Linked DNA regions of Homo sapiens: region 2 is linked to region 1. The links come from fine-mapping of genetic effects on gene expression. A gene starts in region 1. The other region holds a variant in brackets. All regions are shown on one strand. Distances are between the middles of the regions. Region 1 holds the start of MS4A1 (membrane spanning 4-domains A1). Region 2 overlaps MS4A14 (membrane spanning 4-domains A14).

Region 1 (17,055 bases):
AATGATAGGGCTTTCAGAAAGGTCTATTATTTTCACACAGCATTTAACGTTCTTAAGACTGTAGGTATGGTTTTCATGGATCTGCTTTTAGTTCTGTTCCCATGAACATACTTCAGATAGACCTCGCTTCTAAGTTTTTCATAAATAAAATCACAATAACATTGTGGAGGGTCTTTGCTTTTTAGGGCTGAGAGGCTGTGATACCTTGGCTTTTTAAGGGTCTCAGTTTTTAACCGAAAAAAATAGGTACTTCTCTGACATGTGGGAAAGAAGGACATATGGTTACTTGCCAAACACTTCCTGGAGTTTTTCTCCGTTGCTGCCAGGAGTGATCCGGAAATAATATACTGTAAAAAAGAGAGGTGGGGGAGATGGAGAGGGGGTGGGCAAGACAGGAGATAGAGGAGAGAGGGAGATCACTTTTTAACATTGATAACTGGTCAGAAAGAAGCCTACACTTTCAGCAACTTTCACACAACCATCCACCCATTTTTATCAGTTGTATTCATTTTTCAGCTGTCATATTCCTCCTTTATTCAGGCTCAGTGACACTAAATTCATGCCTTTTACTCAATCATCTGGGGATCTGTGACTAGGAATATAGTAAGACCAAAGAGACAGAACTCAAATTTCCTCATCAATTAATACTCATACCATAAATTTAAAAGTTTTATTTCTAGTTTTTCTTTGTTTTTAACTTGTGGAACTGCCCTTTGGGGTTCACAGTGACATAAATGACTCTGATGCCCTCTGAAGAGTGAACTGATGCAGAAGGAAATACTTGACCTGAATGGCACAGGCACTCCATGAAAACATTGGCTGTTACAGGAAGTGATGATGACTATTGCTCATCTTCCTTTTCTCACATTCAGGCTGTAGAATGGAGGAAACTCTTGTTCTAACCCATCTCTACTTGTTTGGAAAATTTTAATCCTGGACTTATCTTTTATAGTGGCAACTATGAAAAGTATCACGGGGAAATAAACATCACTGTCCTATGTGCCACACCCAGACAGGGTTACAGATTTGGAAAACATGTACGTAAAACAGCCAAAAGAGTGCTGCTCTGTCGATAAGCAAAATGAGACTGACTTGTGATGGGACAGGTTTCACCAGGTACCATAGTAACCAAACAGAATTGTAAGCAAGAAGGGGTAGATGGAAGTGGATGTTCCTGCTGCCTCTTGCTTTCCAAAACATCTTGCTATCTAGTCTAAATGTCTAGGGCCACCCTCCCCACCAGAACTGACTTTGGAGAGTTCTTGCTTTGGACAGTCCCTGTGAGATCCATGCAGGGCCCCTTTCTCTGAATTCACATGAAACAGGACCACTGACTCTCAACCATGGGATTTATACTCAATTTGGTCAACCTGTCTTCTTAATTACTTTAACCCAATAATATTTCCTACTCATATATTTCCCTCAACACAGAAATAATCTGGCATATCCCTGTGGAGCCTTTTAACATTTTTGTCTGCACCATTTCCCAAATGGCTGCTATTCTTTTACTCACCATAATGCCTCCCCAGAGAGGGTACCACACAGTCACACAGATGGGTGCATAGATCCCTGCTGGGATCATCAGAAGACCCCCCAGGGCAATGTGGAAGAGCCCATTCATAATCTGGACAGCCTGGGGAGAGAACAGAGGCAGCAGTGGATGAGCTGAAATCATCACTGCTAGCAGGCAAAGACAAGGTTGGAAGCTCTGGCTCCTGACTTGGAGCTGTGAGGAATGCCTAAAGGAAGCAGTGGAGGTGCCAAGAATTTTGTCTTTTTCTTGTTCGAATCTGTTTCCTCAACCACATGGGGCATTTCCAGGGAGCAGGTATGCCTGGGATTCTGGCAATGGACTGGGATGGGGGACCCCTGCATATACAAGCCCCAAAACCAAAAGGTGACATAAGATCACCCAGAGGTGATCTAAGTGATAACTTCTCTGATGCACCCCTGATTTGGCCCACTGTGTTAGACATAAAGAAGACATCAGGTTGGATCCCAATTCTTCAAATTGGATTGAATTCTGTATGTGGCCTATACCGCATCAGCTTCTGTCAGCCAGAGAATCCCTACGACATGGGATGGAAGGCAACTGACTTACCCCCAAAGTCTTAGATTCCCTCATGAAGAAGCTTTGCGTGGGGCCCACCAGTGAAGACATCCTCCTGAAGAGTGGTTTTGGACCAGATTGCATAGCAATAGGGCCTTTCATTGGCTCTGCCGGGAAAGTCCCATTTACTGAATTTCTGGGTGTTGTCATTTTGCTCTCAAAACTCCTAAAAATAAAACAAATAACAAAATGAGGAGAGCAAGAACAAGATTTTTGGCAGTCTTACCTTGTGTCATGCATCTGAATGCTTCTCTCAGCATTTCCTCCATGAGTGTCATTGAGGGTAGACATGGCCTCTTCCGAGTGACCTTGGATCTGAGGCAAGGCCTACTGCTGAGTTCTGAGAAAGGAGATGGAGGGGTTGTTTAGGAAGAGCATGTGGGCCCAGGAGTCCCTGCCAGTGATCTTGACAACTGGGTTTGGGGCATTCTTTATCTTTGTAGAGGACACCTTGCATATATGACTGCATGTCCTCTTTGTTTCTTATTCCTGGATGCTTTTCTTTTGCTTTAATATTGAAAAATGTATTTTCAATGGACTTGTCCTTGTCCTTTTGCTTATCTGCCTTTGTGCATTATGATGGGCCAGAGGCAACATTGCAGAGTATGGTAAGGACTATCTGTAGAAGCAGGAGGGGTCGATTCCAGGCCTCTCTCTGTCTCTAACTCTGCCACCTTGTGCAAGTCACATCAAGAAGGCTCTCTAGGTCGGGCACGGTGGCTCATGCCTGTAATCCAAGCACTTTGGGAGGCCAAGATGGGCAGATCACCTGAGGTCAGGAGTTTGAGACCGGGCTGGCTAACGTGGCAAAACCCCATCTCTACTACAAATACAAAAATTAGCCAGGCATGTTGGTGTGCACCTGTAATCCCAGCTACTCGGGAGGCTAAGGCAGGAGAATTGCTTGAACCCAGGAGGCAGAGGTTGCAGTGAGCTGAGATCATGCCACTGCATTCCAGCCTGGGTAACAGAGTGAGACTCGGTCTCAAAGAAAAAGAAAAGGCTCTCTAAGGCTTTCTAATGCAGTATATAAGACTGTGGCCTCCTGAGTCAGATTGCCTAGGTTTCAATAGTGATTCCTCCATTTGTTCTGAGATGTTGGGCAAGTTCTTTAAATTCTCTGGGCCTCAGGTTCAACTGTAAAATTGAAATAATAATAATTCTTATCTCGTGGGCTGCTATAACACTTAACTGGGCTCATGGTCTGTGCATGGCTAGTGTCTTTTTGTTCAGGTGTAGCTCAAATGTCAGCTCCTAGAGGAGCCTACCTTGAACCCTCAATCTATAACATGTACTCCTATTTGCTGTCTTTTACAAAATCCTATCTTAATTGCTTTACGGCATTGATCACTGTAGGAAATTACCTTATTTATTTAATTGCTTATTGTCAGTCTCTTCCCCACAGAATGGAAGTTCCATCAAAGTAGAGATTTTGTTCTCTCTTGTTCAGGATCTAAAATAATTTTTGGATTTAGTTACTTCTTAATAAATATTATTGAAGAAATAAATGTATGCAAAGAACCCATGTTGGAATAAATAGTTATTTTTGTTGCTATTCTTGTTCTTTGTACTTTGCTGAGCATTAGTTTCGATTTTATCCTTCTGTAAAGTTAGAACAGTACCCCTCTCTGAGATGTAAGACATAAATAAGTTAACATATGTAATTGTGCCTAGGACAAAGGGAGAGTGTAGTAAATGCTATTTATCAGTTTTCATGATTTATTCATTTCTGAAGTGAGAAGGCAATTAATACGGCCCTTTCCAGCTCAGACATTTTAAGATTCTGTTCAATCTTCATCTTGGGTTTCCTTAGCATTCACTTGTTCATGTTAACCACTTATGCGGACTCCACTGGGTCTTTCCTGGAATCTGAAAATCCCTCTTTTGGGGACACATCTTTGCTCTTGTCTTTATTGCTTGTAAGTCATGTAAGATGTCTTGGAAATCAAGACTGTCTATCCAGGTCACATATCTTACTGAAGCCGGTGCCACATCCCAGCCATTAGACCACAGCCTGAAGTATATCTTACTGAAGTCAATCAGAGCTGAGTAGCTGCAGGTGTGCTGTAAAACAGGCAGCTGACTACTGTCACATTTATACCTACTTTAGGGCTGGAAGTAAATTTGACACATGGCATCTCATCTGAGCCTTATAGAACAGGCAAGGGGTGAATCATCACCTGTGTTTTATAGAAGAGGAAACAAGGGCACGGAGAAGCTAGGTTACTTGTGCCAAGTTACATAATTAGTAAATATTTTTTGTTTGTTTGTTTGTTTTCATGACAGGGCCTCGCTCTGTCGCCCAGGCTGCAGTGCAGTGTCATGATCACAGCTCACTGCAGCCTCTACCTCCTGGGCTCAGGTGATCCTTCTGCCTCAGCCACTGGAGTAGCTGGGACCACGGGCAACCACCACCATACTCAGCTAATTTTTATATTTTTTTTAGAGATGGGGTCTTGCCATGTTGCCCAGGCTGGTCTTGAACTCCTGGACTCAAGCAATCTGCCCCCCTCCACCTCCCAAAGTGCTAGGATAACAGCTGTGAGCCACCATGCCCAGCCTGTAAAGATTTAAAATGAAGACTTGGATCTCTCAAATTAGGCATCCAGGGTACCAGGCTGCTTTGTCTCCTGTGAGAAATAGGAATTCAGCCTTTCCCTTATGACCCCTCTTTTCTCCTTCCAATATATGCACTATGTGAATGACTATAAATCAGTTGAAAAGTATTATCTGTCTGGCGCATGGGCTAGAGGAAAGAGAGAAGAAACTTTGGTTGTTTCTCACTTGATTTTGCCCCTGCCCTAGATAGCCAGATGCCACATGGTCCTGGGGATCTGCTTTGTACAACAAGCCACTCTACAAGACCTCTAACAAAAACAGATATTTTAATATAGCCCACTAAAGAGTTTGCGGACTGATTCTGGTCACTAGGTAGGATTTCTAGAGCTAGTCCAAACCTCAGAAACCATTCTGTTCATTTCACAAATGAGGAAGCTGCAGTCTGGGTATAGAATTTGCCTTAGTAAAGACCTCACAGTTAGCAACAGAGCCAAGCTAGAAGGCACTCACCATGGCTCTGATGTTGATGCTTTTTCTGCTGTACCATAGGTGAGTCCAGATAATTATAGTTGTTTACTGAGCACCTACTATATACTAGAGATATTGTATATGGTATTGCCAACTCACTCAACACCTTCGTAAGTAGGCATTTTGACTACTTTCTGCAGATGAAGAAATGGAGGTTGAGAGAGGTTATTTTTCCCAAGGTCCTATGGCAAGTATGGAATGAGCTGGGAGTCACTACACTCCGCCCCAGAGGGGTAACTTTAGTGAAGATAACTTAAAATGCAAAGGTCATCAATTGTTTGAACTGAAGGAGATGATTGGACTGCCATTGTTTTAATTTCATTTTATTCATCAACTGCTTGATTAAAGCTGTGTCTGTATTATTGGCGAGATAAACTTTTTTGTAAGCCAATTCTACTTGGGCTATGCCTGTTGTAACTAATGGCAATAATGACCATGAGGGCTGTGTGTGTGTGTGTGTGATATTTCTCTGTTAAAATGGTATCTCATGGTGGCAACTATACTTCTACAAACCTTAAACAAATATTTGTATAAAATAGTAGTTTATAAAGAAACACATGAGTGCTTTCTCTGTTTTTTTATTTCTTATGGAAACTATCTTTCATATATATATCTGATTATATATATATCTGTCTCATATATGAGAGGTAAATATATTAATCGATTTATGGCATTGTGGGCTGACTGTAATGAAAAGCTTTCGTTCCATGAGAATTCATAAATACATAAAACTCGCCTACGGAGATTGGAGATTCTCGCAATTTTGCCTTATCATTAAAATAAATTGTTCACAATGACTTAGTGCCCAATGCACAGTTATGCTCAAAGACTAGTTGGTAGATTAGTAGGGGTTATGGACCACATTAGCCGCAATATGATAACAATAAGATTTTACATTTGCTGGTGTCCAAATCAGCATGAATGTTAAAATAGAGACTCAGGTGATCACTCAGTACCGCATTTAATTACTCACACTAACTCCTGCAAATATTTTTTTATTTTTAAAGGCACCCCTGTTTTCATGTCCATCCACTGAATAAGATCTCACAGCCTTTATGGGTTTTGGTTTGAATAGACTTTTAAGTCCACTCGTACCATCATGTACTGAGAAGTTTAAAAACTGCCTCACTGTTGTTACCTCATCTTCATTCTCTTCCACTCAAAATAGTTTTGCATTTTTATCCCTTCTGGCCTCCTGTGCACCTATCTCCGAGGAAGAGTGCTCTTACTTCCCTTCCCTCTGTGCTTTTCAGCCCATCTCAGTCCAACCAAGCTGTTAGCCCTTCCAAGAAATTATTTCTTCTTTGCACCTTCAGTCTCCCAATTTCTGGCAATATGTAGCAGACAGAGTTAGTCCCAGCTCTCTTGCTTGCTCCTCTTGTGGTCTCTCTGTAAGTTTAAGGTAATAGTTACCTTCCCCATTTCAAAGTATCATTTTGAGAATATGAGATAAGTTGCATTTGTTAAGGTGCTAAATACTCCTTTTATGACTAAAATGTACTTCAGTGTCCCTGAATCCCAAAGTCCTCTTCTTTTAATCTAGCAATGTCCTTGCCCACTGCCCAGGCTCACTTTTTCTTCACCGCAGCTGCTTCAAAGCTTTGCTACCCACTCTCTTCCCCCACCTCCTCTCCACCCACTCACTTCTCAATGCTTGGCAACTAGTTTCCGCCAGTCAGTGGACTGAAACTGGTCTTTGAGGACTGTGCTGTGAAGTCAGTGGTCTTTTCTCAGGCCTCGTGTCTCAGATTGTTTTATTTGTTTCTCCTGCCACCCAGGCTTAGATAGTTGGGACCACATTTCACTTTAGCTCCATCATCTCTCAGTCCATCTTCATCTTGGCTGTTGGTCAGTCAGTGGCCAAGTCATGCCATTTCTACCTCTGCAATACATTTTGCATGTGGGTCTTTTTTCTATATCCAGAGTCACCTGTGAGTTTCTCATTTCCATTCATGCTTTTCTGCCTTCAGTCTTTCTCTTTTCTAATCCATTGTCCACAAGGCTGCTACATCAAGCTCCCGATCACTGTTTTGAGTGATGCTCTTCCTGAGCCTGAACTCCTTTGCTGGCCTGTCATTACCTGCTGGAGAAACCCTTCATCTAACCCCTCAAGGCCTTTGGAATTCAGCCCTGTATGACTTCCCAAGCTCATATCCCACTACCGCCACCAGAGCCACTGGTCTATACATGTCCTCTACCTTCTTTCCTGAATCTTCTCAACTTTGAAGTGTTCCTTCTCCCTCCCTCTTTACTTTCAATCAAACTCTGCATTAGATATGCACATCACCTGAGGGCGTTCCTGCTCTCCTTGCCTGATTGCAAGGAATTCTTCAGAGCTCCTAGCTCTTTGCTTTCCTTACTAGACATCAACTACTTTCTTCGGAGAATCCTGTATCCTACTAGACTTGCATAGGGAACCTGTTTTCTATGTACTATGAGCTCAGTTACATTAAGCTGAACATCAAACTCAGCTACTTCCTCAGGGAAGCTTAACAAGTGCTCACAATGGCCAGGTGCAGTGGCTCACACCTGTAATCCCAGCACTTTGGGAAGCCGAGGCAGGTGGATCCCCTGAGGTCGGGAGCTCGAGACCAGCCTGGCCAACATGGAGAAACCTTGTCTCCACTAAAAAATGAACAAACAAACAAAACACACACACAAAAATGCTCACAATGCTGGATTAAACATTTCTTTCCACCGGATTCTCAGTGAGATTAAGCCATTTTATGGGAAACAGGGAAAGGGAATCACTTATATACTGGATTCAGAAAACAGTAATGGCATGATTAAAATTAATCCTTGTTTTCCTTCATTAGAGCTCCCCCACATCTGCAGCGCCCCCTCTTACTCTTGGTTTCCCATGTGATAGATTTGAGGCAGGATTTCATGCTCAACTTGGTGTCCACAAATCCCCTCCAGAAAATGTTAGCCTGTAAAGCCACCTATACTTCTAGGTATATTTACATTTAATGTAGACAAAAGCATTTACAGGAAGACAAATGGAGTTTTTTTCATTATGCCTATGACTGATTATTTTCTCATTTGGTATTGGGAAGTCCTAAGGGATTCAGGATTTTAGTTCCAATTTTCCTAATGTAATGGGTACCATTGCCCCCATTTTATAGATGAGGAAGCTGAGGCTTTAGAGGTTTAGTAATTTGCCCAAGGTTATATTGTTTGTTAGTGGTAGAGCTCCAGTTTGAACCCAATGGTTTAGAAACCATGATTTAATATATATGCTGCAATCTACTACTTTTGTGGAATGATTCACAGTTGACTGCATAGGGTAATTGTTGAGAGGGAGACTGATTAGAGGAGTGAGTGGGCAGCAAGCCTTGATATCGTCACCCCTCCTTAAGTCATAGAACTATTAGGAAGTCTGACTAGGGAAACTCTAGAATTAAGATCAAGAACCTCCAGTCTTCAAAACCATTCTATACCTTATCCATCACCTCCTTTAAGTCATTTAAAGAAAGCAAATTGATTCCTTACCTGAGTCTCCAAGGCCTCAAATCTCAAGGGCTGATTTGGATGCTAGCTGCGGAGTTCAGTGGGTGCAGTTTGTTTCTCAAGCACACTGGGAGGGTGAGTGGTGTAGTCCAGGCCTGAAGATGAAATCGCTGATAGACATCAGGTGACAGGAAATCAGTAGCTTCTGCTACCTTGGGCTTCGCTCCAATTACTTTGGTTTAACACTTACCATAGCTGAAGGAGGTGCAAAAAAAGTTTCTGCCTTACCAGGTTTCACTTCTTGAAAAAGACCCCAGGGGACTGCCTGGCATGCTCATGCTACCTTAATTAGAAGAACTTCTGCAGCCCCCACCCTATAAGCAGGTGTGGATGGTAGGTCCCTGAGGACAAGAAAGATTCTAGAAGTTGGTCAAAGATGGGCCGTTAGCACTGACTTTTACCTTCTGGCTTCACTTTTAGGGCTGAGTAGGTGGGCAGGAGGCATCCATGCAGAGATTCAAGAATCACTGAGGCTGTACACTTGGCAGCACTATACTTAGGGGTCCCCAAATATTGTCCTCATTGGCTCACACTTAAGTTTCTTATGAACCATGTATATATCTTGTGTCAGATTTAGCAGAAATGGCCTAAAATTATACTTTAGTGCCATAGTACATGTACCCAGCCACTCAAAGCAAGAATTAGCCTCCATATTTGGAAATATAAATTGAAATAGCACTTTTACCTCTGAACCCACCTTTTTCTTCTGTCTGTCAAGTTCCCTTGTGTCCCCTCTCTTTTTAGTCTAGTCTGGAGCTGCAGGGTCATCAAGCACAGTACTAGATCAAGTAGGGAAATGGAAGAAGTTGGTAGTGTCAGGAGAGTCTAAATATTTGGGATGTGAATCAAAGTTTTGCCCAAAGATAATGTCCTCTCTCTCCCCCTACAATATTCAACTTTTATGTTCATATGTGGGATTTTTAATTACATTTTTATTTCCCTGTTCATTGCTTCATTTTATTAGAGACACAGAGCTATAGTTAGGTAATTATTTGTTTATTTAATCTAAAGGGATGAAATATGGCAGGCAGCTCTGTTGCCTAATTCGAGGTTCATTCCTGTCTCTCTCTTTCATCTCTTCTCTCTTTCTCTTTCTGCCTCTCTTTTTAAATTTAAGATAGTTTGGAACCATAGGGTTAGATCCACTGGGTAGAAGTAGTTCTGGGGAGGCTGATTGTGGTGTGATATTTAAAAAGATGCCACTCTAAAAAAAAAAATTGTTGGAGCCGTTCATTAGGGGAACTGGCTACCATTTCAATAGAGAATTTACTTCTTCAAGAATACTCAAGTAAAGTCATGCAGTCACCTCTCAGAGATGCTGTAGAGTGAAGGAGAGTGGGAACAGAAGATCCATCATCCATTTAACATTCTAATTGAGGGTCTATGCATATCTGCTGAAATGCTTGAGTGATTGGTGATGGGAGGACAATTACCTAGGGTCTGAGTTGTGGATGATTGTGAAACCTGAGGTTTGAGTCCTGGATGGTGGGGTGGTTAGAGGCATGTGCCTTCATTTTAGTTGGCATGGGAACAGGGTCAGGACTTGGCAAATGTATGGCAGCAAAGGGGCTTGAGTTGTGGCAGCACAACCTGGTCTTTTGCATCCTTTTCTCTGTTTGAGCCCTGTATTTCCCCAGTCAGTCTCAGGTTGTTTGCTACTTTGTGGCCAATGAGATAACTTAGGTGGCTCTATGTATGATTCTTCCCAAATAAACTTGAATTTGAATTTGTATGAATGCATAAACATTTACCTTGTCTTTGCTCATTTGAATGATCAACATTTTAGTGCTTGAGTGTGTTGAAATTCTCACTACAATTTGGACTTGTCAATAGCATCTTATTTGATGTATCACCATCACTCTTCCCCCAAGGTTTGAGAATATTTTATTAGGTTGATAACATATTTAAAATATTTCTCTTTGAATTAAGCCTATTTTCATTATCTAGTGACCTTGCTTCCAAAAGACAATCTTAAAGTCTACATAAAAGTATGCCAACTTTTATTTAGTTAGTATTTTCCTGATGTGAATTTCCTTTTTATTCTCTGCACGTCCCAGCACTCCAATTTTTTTAATCATTGCCTTCTATATGAAAACTGTGTGCTACATCATAATTATTTGTGTCCTTGCCTTAATCAGCCATTGTCTCCTTGTCCCTTGAAGGCAGGGTCAGTTTTTGTGATTGCTGTGTCCCTGGCAGTGCTGAGAAGGAATGGTTCTGTTTGGCTTTTTCTTTCACCCAGGTGATTGTCCCCAGGCTCTCCAATATTAGGAAGTAACATTATGCCACGTTCTCAACTTCTCAGCAAGGCCCTGGCACCCAGAATTATCTGCTGTTGGAGGGTTCTGGTGTCAAAGAATTGGTAAGGGAGACATAGGGCTCGTCAGAGGTGAGGCTAAAGATCTAATTGCAAATAGAACTTGGTTACAGGTCAGAAAATCCCATTGTTGCACTTATAAATAATTCATAGTAAGGAAAATGTAAATTGAAATACTTAAGAACTTTATAGTTGATAGGGTCTTCTTTCTCTTCTAAGGGACTATACATTTGGAACAGCTAGGAAGGTAATATTAGTTAAATAATTCCTTTTATGTCAAGAATTGTCCACATATAAGCCTTACCACACATATAATATTGATTCTGTTTTATAATTGTGGAAACTAAATTTCAGGAAATGGAGGAAGCCATTCCCAAGTTGGAAAGCTGGTAAATGGTAAAATAAGTGATGTTTAGAGCAAGAAAATCTCAATTATAAATTTCAAAAACTAGCATTTACTAAGTGATTTTTAAGTTCCAGGCACTGATAAACTCACTTTCCATGTTTCATTTAAGGTTCACAGTAAACCCATTAGGTAGGTATTACTATTATTGCATTCTAGTCTAAAAATTTTAAGCCCGCAAAGATTAATTTGTTCAAGTGACACAGCTTTAAATGGCAAAACATTTATTATTATTCGTTTTAAGATATAAAAATGTCTGATGTACTCCCATGTGCAGATTACTGGATCACTCCCTTTGCTTTTGTGACGTGGGAATATAGCTGAAGAAAAAAATGCAATTATGACCTCATAGTTATTGAAAAGAGTTTTTTCTCTTATGTACCAATAAATATGCTATCATTGGAGATGAAGTGTTACTGATATGTAACGGTAACATTTTTCTGCAGGTGTTGACTATAAAAATATCATTATGTGATAAAAAATTTAATGAAAATAAGATGTTGTTTTGCTTTCTCAATTATATTTCTCAAAAAATTAAATAATATGTATGAAAAAGTACTTATAACAGTGAGACAAGAAACCATGTGCCCACAGCCATGATTAGAGATACAAGAGTGTCACTGATACCTTTGAAAGCTCTCAGGTTATCCTTCCCCAAGCCACCCTCTTTATCAGAGCTCACAATTATGCTGAATTTGGTGTTTATCACTCTCTTCCTTTTCATTGTATTTTGACTTTCCACATATGCTTACATTTCACACGGACATATTGCTTAGTTTTTGTGTTTTCTTTTTTTTTTTAATTTATTTATTTTTTATTGATAATTCTTGGGTGTTTCTCACAGAGGGGGATTTGGCAGGGTCATAGGACAATAGTGGAGGGAAGGTCAGCAGATAAACAAGTGAACAAAGGTCTCTGGTTTTCCTAGGCAGAGGACCCCGCGGCCTTCCGCAGTGTTTGTGTCCCTGGGTACTTGAGATTAGGGAGTGGTGATGACTCTTAACGAGCATGCTGCCTTCAAGCATCTGTTTAACAAAGCACACCTTGCACCGCCCTTAATCCATTGAACCCTGAGTGGACAGAGCACATGTTTCAGAGAGCACAGCGTTGGGGGTAAGGTCACAGATCAACAGGATCCCAAGGCAGAAGTTTTCTTAGTACAGAACAAAATGAAAAGTCTCCCATGTCTACTTCTTTCTACACAGACACGGCAACCATCCGATTTCTCAATCTTTTCCCCACCTTTCCCGCCTTTCTATTCCACAAAGCCGCCATTGTCATCCTGGCCCGTTCTCAATGAGCTGTTGGGCACACCTCCCAGACGGGGTGGTGGCCGGGCAGAGGGGCTCCTCACTTCCCAGTAGGGGCGGCTGGGCAGAGGCGCCCCTCACCTCCCGGGTGGGGCGGCTGGCCGGGCGGGGGGCTGACCCCCCCACCTCCCTCCCGGACTGGGCGGCTGGCCTGGCGGGGGGCTGACCCCCCCACCTCCCTCCCGGATGGGGCGGCTGGCCGGGCAGAGGGGCTCCTCACTTCCCAGTAGGAGCGGCCGGGCAGAGGCGCCCCTCACCTCCCGGACGGGGCGGCTGGCCGGGCGGGGGGCTGACCCCCCACCTCCCTCCCGGATGGGGCGGCTGGCCTGGCGGGGGACTGACCCCCCCACCTCCCTCCCGGACGGGGTGGCTGCCGGGAGACGCTCCTCACTTCCCAGACGGGGTGGCTGCCGGGCGGAGAGGCTCCTCACTTCTCAGACGGGGCGGCTGCCGGGCGGAGGGGCTCCTCACTTCTCAGATGGGGCGGCCGGGCAGAGATGCTCCTCACCACCCAGACGGGGTCGCGGCCGGGCAGAGGTGCTCCTCACATCCCAGACGGGTCGGCGGGGCAGAGGCGCTCCCACATCTCAGACGATGGGCGGCCGGGCAGAGACGCTCCTCACTTCCTAGATGTGATGGCGGCTGGGAAGAGGTGCTCCTCACTTCCTAGATGGGATGGCGTCCGGGCGGAGACGCTCCTCACTTTCCAGACTGGGCAGCCAGGCAGAGGGGCTCCTCACATCCCAGACGATGGGCGGCCAGGCAGAGACGCTCCTCACTTCCCAGACGGGATGGCAGCCGGGCAGAGGCTGCAATCTCGGCACTTCGGGAGGCCAAGGCAGGCGGCTGGGAGGTGGAGGTTGTAGCGAGCCGAGATCACGCCACTGCACTCCAGCCTGGGCACCATTGAGCACTGAGTGAACGAGATTCCGTCTGCAATCCCGGCACCTCGGGAGGCCGAGGCTGGCGGATCACTTGCGGTTAGGGGCTGGAGACCGGCCTGGCCAACACAGCGAAACCCCGTCTCCACCAAAACCAGTCAGGCGTGGCGGCGCGAGCCTGCAATCGCAGGCACTCGGCAGGCTGAGTCAGGAGAATCAGGCAGGGAGGTTGCAGTAAGCCGAGATGGCAGCAGTACAGTCCAGCTTCGGCTCAGCATGAGAGGGAGACTGCGGGGAGAGGGAGAGGGAGAGGGAGAGAGCAGTTTTTGTGTTTTCTAATCATTATTTAGGTAGAATTAATAAGATGTTCTTTTGTGACTTGCTTTCTTTACTCAACATTAAATGTGTATAATTCATCTTTGTTGATTTGCTTCAAGTAATTTATTTTTACCAATATGTGGTCCTCCAGTAGGGAACATGGTACAATTGATCTGTTCTCTGTCCATGGACATTTGAGGTATTGCAGGCAATCCTGCTCTGGAAACATTCGTACGTGTCATATGTTGCACATGTACAAGGATTTCTCTTGCGTATATTAACTAGCAGTGGAATTGTTGGGTTATAAAGTATGTGTATCTTTACCTTTACTAGGGAATAGTTTTTAAAGTGGTTGTCTTCATTTACACTCATACCATTGTGGTAGGAGAGTTCCTTTCATTCCACAATTGCTTAAGAAATTGAGTGCTTTTCATATATTAACCTTTGTTTCTGTCTCCTGTGAAATGGCTGTGCATGGCTTTGGACTAAGTTTTCATCAAGTTGTATTTTTCTATTAATGTATAGGAGGATTTTATATATTCTATATCCCATTATTTTTGTTGGTTATTTGTGTTGCTAAAAGGCTTTGATTTGTAGCTGCTCTCGTCACACTTATGTAACATTCTTAATAACGACTAAATGGGTTGTATCAGTTCTTGCTGGTACTATTCATGTTCTGGGATCTGTTTAAGAAATTCTTTACTACCTTGACTTTGTAAAGAAGTCTTCTATCTTTATTTCTAATAATTTTAACATTTCTTCTTTGTTTTTTAAATTTTATTTTAGGTTCAGGGTACATGTGCAGATGTGTTATATAGGTAAGTGGCATGTCACGGGGGTTTGATATACAGGTTACTTTGTCACCCAGGTAATAAGCATAGTACCCAATAGTAGTTTTTTGATCCTCACCCTCCTCCCATCCTCCACCCTCAAGTAGGCCCCAGTGCCTGTTGTTCCCTTCTTTGTGTCCATATGTACTCAATGTTTAGCTCCCACTTATAAGTGAGAACACATGCAGTATTTTCTTTTCAGTTGCTGTGTTAGTTTGCTTAGAATACTGGCCTCCAGCTTCATCTATGTTGCTGCAAAGGACATTATCTCATTCTTTTCTATGGCTATGTAGTATTCCATGGTGTATATGTACCACATTTTCTTTATCTAGTCTGCTGTTGATGGGCATTTAGGTTGATTCCACGTTTTTGCTATTGCAAATAGTGCTGCAATGAACATATACGTGCATATGTGTTTATGGTAGAACGATTTATGTTCCTTTGGGTATGTACCCAATAATGGGATTGCTGGGTTGAATAGTAATTTTGCTTTGAGTTCTTTGAGAAATTGCCAAACTGCTTTTTTTACAGTGGCAGAACTAATTTACATTCCCCCCAGAAGTGTGTAAGCATTCCCTTTTCTCCACAACTTGCATCTACTATTTTTTGACTTCAAGACAACATTTAAACCTAGTTGACTTAAAAGCCCAAGACTTTGCACCCTCAAATATATCTCAAGCCTCACACATCTGTACATCATTCAGTTGCCAAGTATTTTTCATCATAACCTAACTTCACTGAAGTAAAAAACTTACTTATTTTTCCTGCCATGTTGTATCCGTCACCTTCACAAATGCACCTATAACCTAAGCTGCTGCCAGCAAATAGTAGAAATGAAAGCCTGTTACTTCATTTTTTGAGTATGCTGAGTTTTTTTTTTCTATACCATAAACAACATAGGATAATGGGATTTGAAGTTAGGGAACTTGACTCAAATCCTCTTTCTAAATCATGCTCCTTTTGTGCTCTCAGAAAAGCTAACCACTTTGAGCTTCAATTTTTATGACTATGACAAAAGACATATCTACCCTGAGGGCTGTCAGGACAAGTGAGATGATACAGGTGAGACCTCTAATACTTAGGAGGTATTCAGCCAGTGAGAGGCAATACCATATAAGGTAGTGGTTCTCAAAGTGTGGTCTCGGATTTCCTGGGGTCCTTGAGACCTTTGTAGGTGCCCTATAAGTTCAAAACTATTTTTGTAATAATACTAAGACCTTATTTCTCTTTTCACAAGTTTACAGTAGTATACTCCATAGGCTACAGAACACGAGATATCATAACAGATTGAATGCAAAAGCTGCTAAGAGAATCCAGAGGAAAGTAGTTCCTTCCAAACTTTGCTTGGCATTGGAATTAAGACCTTGGATTCTGGAACCGGCTGCCTGTTGATACTATGGCTCTGCCATTGCAAACTTTATGACCTTGAGCAAATTACTTACCCCCTCTGTGCTTCAGTTTCCTTTTCTGTAAAATGGGTATAATAATACAATTCACCTCCTAGGACTTTTGTGAGATTAAATGAGTAACACCTATATAATACTTAGAATGATGCCTGGAATATAGTAGTGGTTCCACCAATATTTGCCTTCATTATTTTTACTATTGTTAGTATTCTAGTTGATCAGCTCTTTAACATTGATGATCTTGCAGCATTAATGTAGAATTTATGGGCCAAACCATTCCACCAACCAGCTCATCTTTCCACACACCACTGGAGTAGGAGCCACTGGGTGGAGTCTCTTAGTGAAATCAACAGGAGATGTCATCAACCAGAGAAGTTAGATGACTGGGTCACCCCAGGCCTTGGGCTTTGGTTCCTATCTTTGCAACACCACATTGCTGTCCTTTAGTTGAAATAATGCATGACTAACAGAGGTGACAACACCAAGGTGACCATTTGATTTGGGGAGAGGTGCAGATGGCATTGCCAAGAGGCAGAATGTGCTTTATCAGTCAAAATGTCCCCAGAACCCCTTCACTTGAGCCACTCCCCTTTGCTTCAAAGAGTTCCCAGCCTTAAGATTCTATGTGTCCTTTGGCTTTCCCTTACAAGCAGAAGTCATTGCTACATAATATTTTAACACATCTTTATTCTCACAGTGCTAGTCAACAACATTGTTCACAATCACAATCCTCTGAGTGGCACCCCAAAATTGAGAAAGGCAGAGAAATGAATAATTCAATAATGCTGAAAGTCATCAATGTAATCAAAATTCCCTGTAATAGAAGAAGAAGAAAAAAAAATGAAGAGTCATGATGTTGGCACAGTAACGGTTTTCCTGATTA
Region 2 (15,432 bases), 48 kb after region 1:
CCGAAGGCAAGAAAAACAGAACCTATAAAAGCAAGGATGAGGGTAATTAATATGACAGAATCATGTCTGATTTTTTTTTTGTTTTCCAAGTTACTTTTCATTTCTGACTTAAGACAGTAGATAGGAAATAACATCTAAATGAGAAGGCAGAAAACGAATGCCAGTCCTGCCTTTACCATTAACTTATTGGTATTATTTTAGAAGTCATCACCTTTTAGTCTTTCAAATATTGAACAGAGGAATTTGATTAAGATTGCCTCAAAAATTCCTCCCATACTTAATATTATAAAGCTTCTGAGACATTTTATATCATCTAGTCAATATTCATATATTCATGCTTAATCTATAATAGTTTATTGATCACCCAGATGAACTAAATGCTGGGAATCAAAGACAATTAGATGTGGGATTTTCCCTTAAGGTGCTCACAACTATCTGTACATCAACATATAAATAGATAATAGTAATACAATTCAGCAAATGCAATTACATAAATAGGTACTTAGTGCTTTATGGGAACATAGAAGATGACCTAATTCTGAGACAACCTGGAAATGCTTTACAGAAGAGGCAATATTTAATCTATATCTTAACAGCTGAGTAGGAATTACTCAGGCATAGACGGTAAGATGAAATAAGACAGGAGTCAGAATCCAGGTAGAAGCAGCAGTGGAATAGCGGGTACAAAAACACAAGGTTGTGATATAGCATGGTGTGATGGCAGATGGTAAGCAGTTAGATATTACTGATATTATTAGATGGTATGCTAGGCTAGGAAATTTGGACTTTCCTTTACAAATAAGAGGAAGCAATTGGAGTTTTTTAAACAGCTAAGTGACCACATCTGATACAACCTGCAATGCTTCCCATTAGTTCTCATTTTATTATTATAATTTTTAGGAGGTTGTTACTGCAGCACAACCTGCTGCTTTTTATTCTGACTCCATGAATTACACCTTTCTGAGATAATTCATAGTCAGAATAGACTACTTGTTCTATTTGATGAAGTGGATCAGAACTCAGTGATTAAATGAATTAATTATGCTTACCTCGTTTGCTAATAGCAGGCCTAGATTGAGAATCTACACATTCTCTGAAATAATACATTGCATTTCCCATTCTTCTAATTAGTTTTTCACACCTATATTTTATCCCTATTGAAGGACTATTTATGTGAGTATAAATGGTACTTTGGAAGAGATTTCTATATTTCTAAGAATCCTCAAACTTTGTTTCATGTGAATTTTAATTTATTCTTCCACTTAAAAAGAGGTTTGGAAGAAATAATTATAGTTTCTCTGTTTATTAAAGCTCTTAAGTGCTATGATTTTAAATTTCCTCATCCATTAATGAGAACTCAGTGATTACCAGATGCTAGACAATGTTCCAAAGTCATCACAAAAATTGGTATGACATCCCTATGAAGTTATTATCCTTCTTTTAGAATTGAGGGAATTGAGGTTCAGAGATGTTAAATAACCAGACCAGTATCGTAGAGCTGTTTACTTGGGAAGGATTTAAAAATTGTAGTTGAATCTGAGGTCCTGTGCTTTCCTCTCTGATCTATGCTTCTTGTATTAATAACGTCACCTACTTCCTACTTCAGGGTGGCTAAGACTAAAGACCAAATGAAATAATACTTTCAAGCACAGAAACTGGCACAGAGAAATTTCTCCGTAAATGTAGAGTTCACTTTCCCTTTCCTTTTCTTGAGATCAAGGTACATATTTTATTATTTTTGAATCCCCTGTTGTACTTTGCACATTACTGTGCCATTAGTGGATTAAAGATCTGTATTCACTAAATTCAATTGAAGAGTTATTTAGTGTAACTTATTTTAGTATTGTTTCTAAAGGGCTTAAAACAGGGTTTGTACTCTCCTCTAGTTGTGTAATATACAGATAATACGATAAAGATGAAAGCATGAGATGAAAAATGACAAAAGCCAATACCCATTCATGATTTTAAAAAATCTGCGCAACAGGGTAAATTTACTCTGTAAAAAACCTACAAAAAACATCATATTTAAGGGTAAAATATTGAACATTTTCACCCTAAGATCAAGAACAAGGAAAGATTGCTATTTTCATCACTTATTTTAAACATTGTATTGGAGACTACACAGTGTAATAGGGCAAGAAAAATGAGGCATAAAGTTTGGGAGTAAAAATGTCTTTATTAATACTTAAAATGGTTATCTACTAAGAAAATTCTAGAAACTCTATTAAAAAAAAGCTATGGGAACTAATAAGTTAGTTTAGAAAGGTCATAGTAGACCAGTATATAAAAATAAATTGCATTTCTATATGTGGGAATGAACATTTAAAAAATAAAATTAAAAATACCATGTACAATATCAAGAAAAAATGAAATAATTACAGATACATTTAACAAAGTATGCATAAGGCTTATACATTGTAAATAATAAAATAGTGCTGAGAGAAATGAAATGAGATGTAAGAAAATACAGACATGTTTCATGGACATGGATCAGAAGACTACATATTACTAAGAAGTAAATTGTTTATAAATTATCTATAGGCTCAGTACAATTCCAACCAAAATCCCAGCAAGATTTTTGTAGCAATCAATAAACGAATTCTAAAACTTATGTGGAAATTCATATGACCTAGAACAGCCAAAACAATTTTGAAAAATAACAAAGTTGGAAGATTTATACTATCTGATTTCAAGAATTACTCTAGCATAATTTTAGTGGGGCAGAAGAGAAATCTCCATAGAGAATTGAAAAACAATAGAGAAAATCAATGAACCCAAATGTTGATTCTTTTAAAAGATCAACAAAATTGATAAACCTTTACCTATACTGAAAAGCAAAAAGACAATAAAACAATTAAAACAAGACATAAAAGTAAGACATTATTACTGACCTTATAGAGAGTAAAAGTATAAAGTATTGTAAAAGAATACTATAAAAACTTATATGCCAAGAAATCAGATACTGTATAAGAAATGGGCAAATTCCTTGCAACACACAAATTACCTAAAATGATTCAAGAAGAAATAGAAAATCTTTACAGATCCATAACAAGTAAAAAGATTCGTAATCTAAAAGTTCCTAACAAAGGAAACTTCTGGATCAGATGGCTTCACCAGTGAATTCTACCAAAATTTAAAGAAAAAAAAAAAACAATTATTCTCAAACTCTTCTGAAAACTTGAAGAGAAGGGAAAATTGCCTAACTCATTCTATGAGGCCACCATTACCTTGATACCAAAAACAGATAATTATGCTGCAAGAAAAGAAAATTACAGATTAATATCCTTTATAAGTGTAGATACAAAAATTGCCAACAAAATATTAGAAAAGGATTATTCATATGATGAAGTGAAATTGATAAGCAAAATACAAGGATGGTACAATAAGAAAATCAATAAATGTAATACATTACATTAATATAATGTTGGAAAACCCCCACACAGTCATCTCACTTGGAGTAGAAAAGGCATTTGATGAAATGCCTTTCATGAGAAAACCTCTCATAAAACTAGGAAGAGATGGAAAATTCCTCAATATGTAAAGTTTATTTATAAAACACCCACAGCTAATATCATACTCAGTGGTGAAAGATTAAAAGCTTTCCCCCTAAGATCAGGAACTATATAAGAATGCTTTCTTTCACTGCTGCTATTAAATATTGTACTAAAAGTTCTAGCTAGAGCTATTAGAAAATAAAAAGAAATAAAATTCATCCAAATTAGAAAAGAGGAGATTAAGGCCATCTGTATTTCCAGATGACATGATCTTCCTATATAGAAAATCCTCCCAAATCCACAGGAAAGCTACTAGACCTAATACAGGATTGCAACAAGGTTCAAGATACAAGAGCAACCCACAAAAAATCATTGTTGTTTCTGTATAACAGCAATAAACAATATGAAAATAACATTTAAAAAGCAATTTCATTTATAATGCCACCTAAAATAATTACATACTTTAGAATAAATCTAACCAATGGGATGAAAGACCTCTATGCTAAAAAATATAAATCATTGCTGAATGTAATTGGAGACCTAAATAAATGAAAAGACATCTTGTGTTCA[C/T]GTATAAGAAGATTTAAAATTGTTAAGATGTCAGTGCTGCTCAAAGCAATATACAGATTCAATACAATTTCTATCAAAATTCCAACAGTCTTTTTCTTATAAATGGAAAAATGGATCCTCAAGTTCATATTGAATTTTAAGAGGCCCTGAATAGCCAAAACAATAATGAAAAAGAATAATACAGTTTGAGTGATTATACTTTCCAACTTTGAAACGTACTGTAAAGCTACACTAATTAAAACAATACAGGGCCGGGCACAGTGGCTCATGCCTGTAATCCTAGCACTTTGGGAGGCCGAGGCGGGTGGATCACCTGAGGTCAGGAGCTCGAGATGAGCCTGGCCAATGTGGTGAAACCTCGTCTCTACTAAAAATACAAAAATTAGCCTGGCATGGTGGCATGCGCCTATAGTCCCAGCTACTTAGGAGGCCGAGGCAGAAGAATTGCTTGAACCCGGGAGGCAGAGTTTGCAGTGAGCTGAGATCTCACCACTGCACTCCAGCCTGGGTGACAGAGCAAGACTCCATCAAAACAAAAAACAAAAAACAAACAAAAAAAAAAACCCAAAAAATATGGTACCTGGCATAAGGGAAGATATATAGACCAATGGAATCATTCAGAAATAAATGCTCACTTATATCACATATATAGTAAATCAATTTTCAACATAGACACCAAGAATATTCAATGGGGAAAGGAATTTTTTCAACATATGATGCTGGAATAACTGGGCATCCACATGTGAAAGAATAGAGTTGGACCCTTACCTTATACCATATACAAACATTAACTCAAAATCAATCCGACACTAAGCCTAAGAGCTAAAACCATACATTTCATGGAAAAAAGTTGGAAGATATCTTCATGACAATTTGGCAATAATTTCATGGATGTGACAAGAAAGGCACAGAAAACAACAAAATAATAGATTAATTATACTTCATAAAGAACTTTTGTGCATCAAAAGTCATCAAGAAAGTGCAAAGACAACCTACAGAATAGGAGAAAATATTTGCAAATCATATGTCTACTGAGGGACTAAGATCCAGAATATATAAAGAACTCTACAATTCAACAACAAAAAACAAACAGCCCAATTAAGAAACAGGCAAGACTATAACAGTTATTTCTCCAAAGAAGATGTATACATGGATGCTCAACATCAAATCATTAGGTAAAAGCAAATCAAAAGTATGAGATACCACTTCACACCCATTAAGATGGCCATTATATAAGGCTGGGTGTGGTGACTCATGCCTTTAATCCCAGCAGTTTGGAAGGCCAAGGTGGAAGGATGGCTTAAAGGCAGGAGTTCAAGACCAGCCCTGACAGCATAGCAAGACCTTGTCTCTACAAAAATAAAAATAAAAATAAAAATTTATGTGGGTGTGGTGGCACATGCCTTTCATCCCAGGTACTCAGGAGACTGAAACAGGAGAATCATTTAAGCCCAGGAGTTTGAGGCTGCAGTGAGCTATGATCTTGTGCCACTGTAGCCTAAGTGACATATGATCTTGTGCCACTGTAGCCTAAGTGACATAGTCTTTGTATAAAAATTAAAGAAAGAAAGAAAAAGAAAGAAAGAAAGAAGGAAAGAAGGAAAGAAAGAAAGAAAAAAGATGGCCATGATAAAAACAAATATGATCCAGAAATCCCATTACAGGGTATATATTCAAAGGAAATGAAGACAGTTGGAGAAACATCTGTACTCCCATATTTACTGCAGTGCTATTCACAAGAGCCAAGATAAGGAATCAACCTAAATGCCTATCTACACATAAATGAATAAAGAAAATGTAATATATATATATATAAAATATACATTATATATTACATATATATAATGTACACACACACACAAACAATAGAATACTATTCAGCCATAAAACAGAATGTAATTCTGTCATTTGTGGCAACATGCATTAACCTGGAGGACATTATATTAAGTGAAATAAGCCAGGCTGAGAAAGACAAACACTGCATGATCTCACACACATTTGGAATCTAAAAAAGTTGACTTCATGGAAGTGAAGACTAGAATAGTGGTTACCAGAGGCTAGGGAAGGTAGGGAGGATGGGAGGACCGGGAAGGATTGGTCAATGGGTATAAAATTCTAGACAGGAAGAGTAAGTTCTTACTTACTATAGATAGTAAGAATAAGTTCTATACTTAGTAGCATGACTATAGCAAATTACAACGTAGTGTATATTTCCAGGTGACTAGAAGAGAAAATTTGGAATGTCATCACTACAAAGAAATGATGTTTAAAGTGATGAATGTGGTAATTACCATGATTTGATCATTAGAAAATGTAACATGCATTGAAGCATCACACTGTACCCCATAAATATGTACAATTATGTGTCAATCATAAATTGAAAATTAAAAATAAATGGAAAATAATTACTCCCCCTTTTCCCCTGTTGGTTGGTATTGATGGAGATGTGGAGAAATTGGAATCCTTGTACACTGCTAGTGGAAATGTAAGATGGTGCAACGAAGGTGAAAAACAATTTGGCATTTTCTCAAAACATTAAACACAGAACTCCATATAAGCCAGCAATTTCGCTCTTAGGTATGTATCCAAAAGAATTGAAAACAGGGACTTGAGCAGATATTTTTACACCAATGTTCGTAACAGCATTATTCACAATATGCAAAAGGCAGAAATATCTGTGTCCATCAACAAATTAATGGCTAAGCAAAATATGGTATATACACAAAATGGAATTTTATTTAGTCATAGAAGGAATGAAATTTTGATATATGCTACAACATGGATTAATCTTGAAAATATTATGCTTACTCAAATAAGCCAGTTAGAGAAGGACAAATATTGTAAGATTCCACTTATATGAGGTCTCTAGAAAAGGCAAATTCATAATATAGAAAGTAGGATAGAGGGTACCAGGGGCAATCAGGAGGGGAATCGGGGAGTGATTGTTTTGTGGTACAGAGTTTGTGTTGGGGATGATGAAAAATTTTGGGGCATAGATAGTGGTGAGAGTTACACAACATTATTAATGTATTCAATGATTTGAACAAATGACTAAAATGATAACTATTATGTTATATATATTTCACCACAATGCAAAAGAATTACTCTAAAGACACAGAAATGAAGAGAGTGTAGAATACGTGGAAGGATAGACGTAGTGGCCAGAGGGAAAAAGTATCCAAAAGAGACCTACAAATAAATAATAAGTAAATTGATTTTCAACAAAAATACCAAGGTGATGGAGGAAAGCATTGCATTTTCAACAAATGGCGTTAACAACTGGATATCTCCATGAGGGGGGATGTGCATTAACTTCTAACCTTACCCTACAACTGTACATGAAAGTTAAGATAGACCATACATCTAAACACAAAAGCTAAAATTATAAAACTTCTGTAGGAAAAGATAGAAGAAAACCTTCATGATTTGGGGGTAGGGAAAACCTGTTAAACAGAACACAAAAACCATAACCATAAAAGCAAAAATGATAAATGGAACTTCATCAAATTTGTTTTTTTCAAAGAAGCTATTAAGAAAATGAAAAGGCAAGTCACAGTGTGAAAAAATATTTGTAAAGGATTTGTATTAAGAATTAATTAGGCTGCTATAAGGCCAATAAGAAGATAATCCAATAAAATTCAGCTAAATATTTGAACAGACATCTCAAAAGAAGATACACAAATGGATAATAAACATATAGCAAGAGTGTCATCATCATTAGTCATTAGGGAAATGTAAATTAAAACTACAATGAGGTGCCACTACATACCCACTAAAATAGCTAAATTATTAATAAACTGACAGTTTCAAGTGTTAATGATATGGAGCAACTGTCCCTCTCACACATTGTTGATGAGAATGAAAAGCAATACAGCCACTTTGACAAACTGTTTGGTATTTTCTTATAAAGTTAAACATCTGGTTACCATACGATCTCGCAATCAAATCCTAGATGCAACACTCCAGGAGAAGTGAAAATATGTCCACACAAATATATGAACTCAAATATTCTTAGTAACTTATGATAATAGTTCAGAACTTTAAACAATCTAAATACCCATCAAAAGGTAAATGGACTGGGCGCAGTGGCGCACACCTGTAATCCCAGAACTTTGGAAGGTCATGGTGGGTGTATCACTTGAGCCAAGGAGTTTGAGAGCAGCCTGGGCAACGTGGCAAAACCCTATTTCTACAAAAAAAATACAAAAAAAATTTAGCTGGGGGTGGTGGCGCATGCTTGCAGTCCCAGCTATTTGGGAGGCTGAGGTGGAAAGGTTGCTTGAGTCCAGGAGATTGAGGCTGCAGTGAGCCGAGACAGTGCCACTGCATTCCAGCCTGGGTCATAGAGTGAGGTCTCGACTCAAAAAAAAAAAAAAAAAAAAAAAAAAGGTAAATTGATAAACAAATTGTGGTGTACCCATACATAAAGGGAATGAATTCTTGATAGAGGCAACAGCATGGATGACTCTCAAAAACATATTTCTGTGTGGAAGAAGCCATATAAGCCATATACAGAGAGTACTTACTTATGATTCCATGAATATGAAATTTTGGAAAGTCAAAACCAATCTAGGTGATGAGAACATTGACTACAAAGGGGTTCCAGTGAACCTTCCGGGATGCTAGGAATGCACTATACCTTGATTGTGATGGTAGCTAAACATAGGTACATTTTGTTGTTTATAAATGATACTTCTATAAAGTTGATGTAAAAAAAAGAGAGAGCTAGAGAGAGAAATGAAATCTCCATAAATCACAAGGCCTGTACTGGTATTTGGGACTTAGTGAGCAGGCTCTGGAGACATATCACAGGGGTCAGAATCCTGATGTTATGTGGTACTGGAGAGGTTAGTTTAGCCTCTTTGTGCCTTACTTCCTTCATATGTAAAATAAAGATGTTATAATAGTTTTGTTAAGATTAAGTTGGTGCTCAGTGATTATAACAGTGACTGACATAGTCAGAATTCAGTAAATATAATCTATAACAATTATTATAAATACTATGTAGTATCAGTAGTAACAGCTTTTTTTCCTATTTCTTTTGTGGTGGTGGAACTGTGTCACACATCTTATGATCCAAGAATATACACCCCATGTCACAGTAATTTGGGTTCCTGTTAAGTCTGATATTACATATTTTTGGCAGAGACATAAGGAGCTATGTCTTAACAGAGATGACTGAGTATAAAGCAGATAGTACAAGAAAGGAAAGCATAGTTGTTTCAGATGGTGGGGTGAGCTTCAATCTTAAGCTTGCCCCTCTCTGACCTTCCTAAATTTAGATGTTTTATTTCAGCATCTGAGCATGCTGCTTTTCCTACTAATAAATCAGACATCATTGTGTGCAGTATCCCAACAGGAACAGGAACCTGTTCTCTTAATAATATTAAGAGACATCAGAACACACCTCATCTGACTGTGTCCAGCACTTGCTTCTAAAGGATGCAATAGTCACAGAGATGCTGAGCTCTGCTATGCTGATGATCAGTAAGATTAACAAAATTCCCTGCAAATAATGAGGAGAAATAAATGGTATTTGAAATGAGAGCTGTTATTTTAAATATATAAGCTGAGAACCCCTTACACTCTATCACCAAGTATGGGAAACCCATATTTTGGATGGTTCTGTAGCCATCAGACACTGCACAATTTTCATCTTGTGTCTTTCTGATGAGGCAGGGATAACAAACTCCAATGTCCATGGGAGCTGGGCAGTCATTGTGAACTAAACAGGGAAAGAGTAGAGAGTAATAGTATTCATAGGAGGCATCCATTACTCAATTCCAGCCAATTGCTGTCATGTGGGAACATGGATACCATAATGCCTATTTTGTTTGTTTTTCCCTAAAGAGCCAGATAGAACATATATACAGGCTGGATATAGCCCACAGATTGCCATTTTGCCCATTTTGCTTTAAGGTAATGTTTATATTGAGAAGTAACATGGTACCTTATGGTGTCTCAAAAGTTTAAACTATGAAGACAGAAAGACCTGAGTTACAGTGAGTCCAAGGTTGGCCGGGCGCGGTGGCTCACGCCTGTAATCCCAGCACTTTGGGAGGCCAAGGCAGGAGGATTAACTGAGGTTGGGAGTTTGCGACCAGCCTGACCAACATGGAGAAACCCCGTCTCTACTAAAAATACAAAATTAGCTGGGCCTGGTGGTGCATGCCTGTAATCCCAGCTACTCGGGAGGCTGAGGCAGGAGAATTGCTTGAACCTAGGAGGCGGAGGTTGTGGTGAGCCGAGATTGTGCCATTGCACTCCAAACCTGGGCAACAAGAGCAAAACTCCATCTCAAAAAAAAAAAAAAGTGGGTCCAAAGTCCCACTTAACCTTGAACAAATAACTGTGTGTTTCTGAATCTTGGTTTCCCTGCAATACACCCAAAATCTTAAATATTCAATATTTGTTGGTAAAACTGAAATGTATGAAGACCCTATTGTATGCAATTTACTGACTTTCTCCATTGAACAAGATATACCTGGTCTTGGATTTTGTAGAACTTACATCATGGTAAGGGAGGCAGACAATAACAAGTAATTAGATAATTATTTACCTAACTAAATTGTGATAAATGCTGTGAAGAAGGATTGGGAGCTATGCGCTACTCTAATGGGGGATCTATGCAGATATGAGCATAGAGGTGAGGTCAGGAAGAACTTCCTTAAAGAAGTGGTATTTCAGTTGAGATTTAAGTATGAGGATGAGTTAATTGTATAACTGGCCTGGTGACGGTTCAAAGCCGGAAGAAGCTGATCCTCTGATCATCTTGGGGCCGTGGATACTTGACACATTAAGGGATTATAGGAAGTGGCTGGAGTGTGGAGGAGTGAGAAGGATGAAGTCCTGGAATAATGTTGGAAAGATAGGTAGGATAGGTGTTACAGGGTTTGGTAAGGCTGTTAAGATTTGGGTCTTAATCATCATACGTTTTACAGGAAGCCATTAAGTAATGGCTCAGATTTACATTTTTAAATGATTACTCTAGCCACAGTATAGACAATAGATTGGTCTTTAGGACAGGGGTCAGCCCAAGAGACATCTAAAGCCCACTGTTCTGGCTCTTTTAGCTTATGATGTTTGGGTTACAGCAAGAAATTGTTAAGTTATGTAAGTGAGAACTAGGAAGAGATTGTTCATGGTTCTGTATGCAGGTAACTAATCTTGCAATACCCATCCATGGACAGCAGGAAATACGGAATTTCATATATCTGGAGATTTAACCCTTTCGGGTATATACAAGTTCTTCCTCGTATATACGAACATAACAAACAGTAGTTGCCTCCTGTCCATTCAGCAATGGCCAAGAATTATAATGTTGTATCATGTTCTTGGCCCAGTTAGGACAGGGTTTTATCGCTTATGTTGTTTTCTGGCTTTCTTTAGTAATCTATCATGAGTCTAATTTTAGAATTTATCTCAGAACACATGAGAGAGTCCCTGGGACCATTTCACTGAGTGATTGTGAGGATTAAATTACCTCTTGTATTCAGGAACTAACTTCTCATTTCTTATTTACTGAGGAAGACCATTTTCTGTGATTCCACTTTATTTCCCTTCTAACGGATTCAAATATTCTTCAAATTATAGAACCCATGCTTCAAGATATAGCTGGTAGGAATAAAATAAAACCCCAGGACTTGCTTAGGGAACTAGAGAGAAAGGCCTATTGGAGTCACTGACATGCTTAAAAATAATGTCACTGATTACTTGTTAGATAAATACTTTAAATTGCACAGACAACTACATTTCCTGGTAAAAGATCTCTCATCTGCTTTAATGAATAAAATTGCCACAATTATGTGAAATAATGTATGTCTTAAGCTTATAAAAATCCTTATTTTTTTAAATGACTTCTAAATACCTTCCCCCACTGTATTTTGATCTCAGTGTTATTGAGCAAACTTTTAGATCATTTTGTTCATTAATGCTGAAACAGTAAAATTTAATTCAATCTATGGCCATAATAATTGTATTAGCTAAACCTACTGACTATTTAACTGTGCAAGGTACTGTTTTAATTTAAGCAATCCTCACAACAACCCATGAGGTAAGCATTCTCATTATGTTCATTTTCCACTTGAGGAAAACCGAAGCTTAGAGAGAATACAATATTAGGCCAAGGTGACAAGCTTGTGTGAACAGGATTCAAGTCCAGAAAATATCGCTCCTTAACCATTGTAACAGTAACCCCATGGTACCCTTCTCAACCGTCAGTTCAAATGCTGACACAACTTCATTTAATAAAATAAAAATCAGTGAATCATTACATCATGGACACAGTTCAGAGAAGATTTTAGGGATTCTTCATGCAAAATAAGACCACTTACAATGAAAAGAGTTCTACTGAAAACACATATTTCTTCAAAGGATGGCATCTGGCAGTACTTGTCTTGATGTCTGTAGCTGAGAATGGTGAAAGTAATCCCAGTTATCGCAACCAAGGAGCTGATAACATTCATGCCCGTGACACCTTGACCCTGAAAGATAGTTTAAAAATGATAAAATAAATAAGATCGAAACCAAAGCAAAAATATCTTGTAAGAAATTTTTAGTGCTTTTATCTTTCCAGATACTTCTCAGGGAAGAGTTGTTCCATCAGGTCAGTATGATTGGAAGGCTTAATAAACTAAATTCTAACTCATTAAAGTCAGAAGACAAACCAAGTTTTAGAATGGGCTAAGGATGCTCTATGGCTAATGCTAAAGAAAATGTTCATTTTATCCCATTTTATCTCATTTTATCACCACCATCTTTCATAATCTGGAAGCAGTACAATGTGTTAGCAAATATCTTTGCTTGGAAATGAAACCTCATTTCAAGTCCAAGTTTCACTAGGACCTTAGGCAAGTAACCTAATCTCCTGGAATCTCAATTTCTGCCTTTAAAAATGTGAATGTGTCACCTAACTTTTAGGGTAGTATCCATTTATTCATTTATTTCATAAATATTTAATGTGCACCAGATACATGTGAGTACTGCATTAGGCCCTGGAGAAACAAAAATGAACAAAAGAGGTGACATCCTGCAATCATGTGGTTTACAGTCATTCCCTGGGAGAATTCAAGCAATAATCAACAGAATCGTTAACATTTAAAGATGTTAACCTATTTGGACTGGAGTTTAAAGGTGTTTTTTCTTGAACTCATTGTTGCAATAAAAATATTTCACACTGCCCCACCCAATTCCCTTTATTCATTCTTATTTTTTTGGAGGGGGGTGTGGGTGGGTGGGGTAGGTATATCCGAGTTCCTTTACAGGAAGGGGGTCATCTGATTTCTTCCTTCTTACCCACTCCCAGGACTGATATCACTCTTTTAAAGGAAAAACAAAGAAAAGCTTCACATTTCCATTCATCAGGTATTTGCTGTACCTTTATTGATTGTGTTATGACTACCGTGGTGGAAAATACAATGATGCCTTTACACAGCCAGTCCTTTCTGGAAGTTTGTGGCTTGGTGTGGCAAACCTCAGAAGTGTACTTGTGACTTAATGTTTACCTCAATCCCAGGTTTTTATTGCAAATAGGCACTTTGGCAGAAAATGCACAGGAACATATAGATAGGCCATCTCTCTCTTGGTCTTTAGTCCCCTTGTTTTCTCAAGGCTCTATTTTGGCTCCCATAGGACATTTTATAGACTAAGATCTCTAGATAATCAATCCCTCATGTGTATTGGGCTTTACAAAGAACATGCCCAGCCTAGTCTCTTCTGATTCTCATTATACTTTTGTGCTGTAGGAAGGACACTTGTTGTTATCCACATTTTACAGATAAATGGAATTAAGGAAGTAAGTGACTGTGAGCAATCACTTTCACGGTTTGTGGAAGGGCTGTGATGAAAAGCCAGGTCTTCTGATGCCTGGTTCAGCATCCTGCCTCCATCATTCCTGCACACCTCCATCTGCATAGCTCTCAGTGAGTCAGGAGTAGGTTTTCCTTACCCATAGTTTATTTCTCAGCTCTGGAAGGAAGTCAATACAGGGAGAACAGCATTTGGGGCTTCATCTGCATTGTCTGCATGTATTTCCATAAGCAGGGATGGAAACATTTATCTGCCCTCCCCTCAGAATGTCTCTATGCCTTGTAACTATCCCTAGAGGAAACTGGCAGAGGACCATAAGAACAGAGTTCAACTGACTTTCAGAGAGGCCCACATCCCCAGGACCTTAAACAAGATCAGAGTGGTTAGAAAGGAGTATGAACATTTAAGCATCATCTTGCCTTTTATCAGTAATGTCTCATTAAACTCTCAAAATAACCCTTAGAAGTAGGCACTTTTCCCTTCAGGTTAACACAGAAGTGAGTGATAGCCTTGGTTCAATCCTAGAACAATCCAGCATTGATGCCCAAACTCTTTCTTCCAGACCTTGGGCAGGATCTAAAGAAAAGCCTCGGTTGGTATTGGAGATAGGGCTAGGATTGGGAGGAAGAATTAGTGAGAGCTTAGGATTGGTTTTGGTTAGAGCAAGGTTTCTCAACCTTGGTACTATAAACATTTTTTGTTGGATAATTTTTGTGTTGGGGGGAGGCTGCCTTGTGCATTTTAGATGCTTAGAAATGTCCCTGGCCTCTACTCACTTGTTGCCAATAACACCAGTTGTAATGACCAAAAATGTCTTCAGATGTTGTCCAATATTTCTGGGTCCTGGGGGGTGCAGGGCAGGGAATTACCCCTAATTACAAACAATGAATTACAGGGATGCAGAATGGTTTCCAATAAACAACTCTTTTAGTTTACTTGACCAGGGAAATGGGAACAAGTGTAAGAATGTCTGTCAGGCAAACAGTGGCACTGGCAAATAGGAATGATCTGAACTGCAACTTTGATGCATACAGATTTTCCTGAAAGGTAACTTTATTACTAAAGGCTTCATACATAAAGATGATATAAAACAAATAGAAGATTTTAAATTTTATGTAGTTTAAGTGGCTTACCAGAAGTTTTGATTTCTTATCGGTTACTGTGAGGTATCCTGTAAGAATAAACTGTTAAGAAGACAAGAGACAAAAGTTAACAGGTGATGTGTTTGACCACCTTGCAGTATAATTTCCCTTGGATTTGCAAAATATCTGTTTGTGAATCTCCAAGACCATCCCGTTTTTCCACCTGAGCATCAGGGAGTAGGGAAGGTAGGCGTAGGTAGGGTAGGAAGAAACTTTGTGCTGGATTTGCTCAGCACTGAACAAGCGCTCTCTGCCAGGGCCAACTGGGACAGGCAGGCTCCTCTAAGATCCAGAGGACCAGATGTTTGATCCGGCTGGGGCTCCAAAAAGAGATTCCTGAGCTCTGGGCCTTGAAGAGAAGAGGAGGAGCTGTGCCTGTTCTGAGCAGGTGAAGGGAGACTTTCTCAAGGAAGACCCCT

What was found.
Region 2: its variant is fine-mapped to the expression of MS4A1 in whole blood (TOPMed, PIP above 0.99).

The regions. Positions count from the first base shown.
Region 1 is chr11:60,447,580-60,464,634 of GRCh38, reverse strand. MS4A1 (membrane spanning 4-domains A1) reads right to left here and starts at 8,788. Exons shown (of 8, transcript NM_152866.3): 1 at 8,690-8,788; 2 at 3,475-3,563; 3 at 2,102-2,450; 4 at 1,514-1,633; 5 at 291-347. The coding sequence starts at 2,260. MS4A5 (membrane spanning 4-domains A5) reads right to left here. Exons shown (of 5, transcript NM_023945.3): 5 at 16,843-16,986. The coding sequence ends at 16,876. RefSeq lists an enhancer at 6,600-6,709.
Region 2 is chr11:60,400,027-60,415,458 of GRCh38, reverse strand. It overlaps MS4A14 (membrane spanning 4-domains A14), which reads right to left. Exons shown (of 5, transcript NM_032597.5): 3 at 15,005-15,055; 4 at 12,398-12,547; 5 at 1-22. Among named protein-coding and RNA genes, the nearest start is that of MS4A14, 11 kb to the right of the region's middle. The variant C/T (reference allele first, on the strand shown) is at 4,065.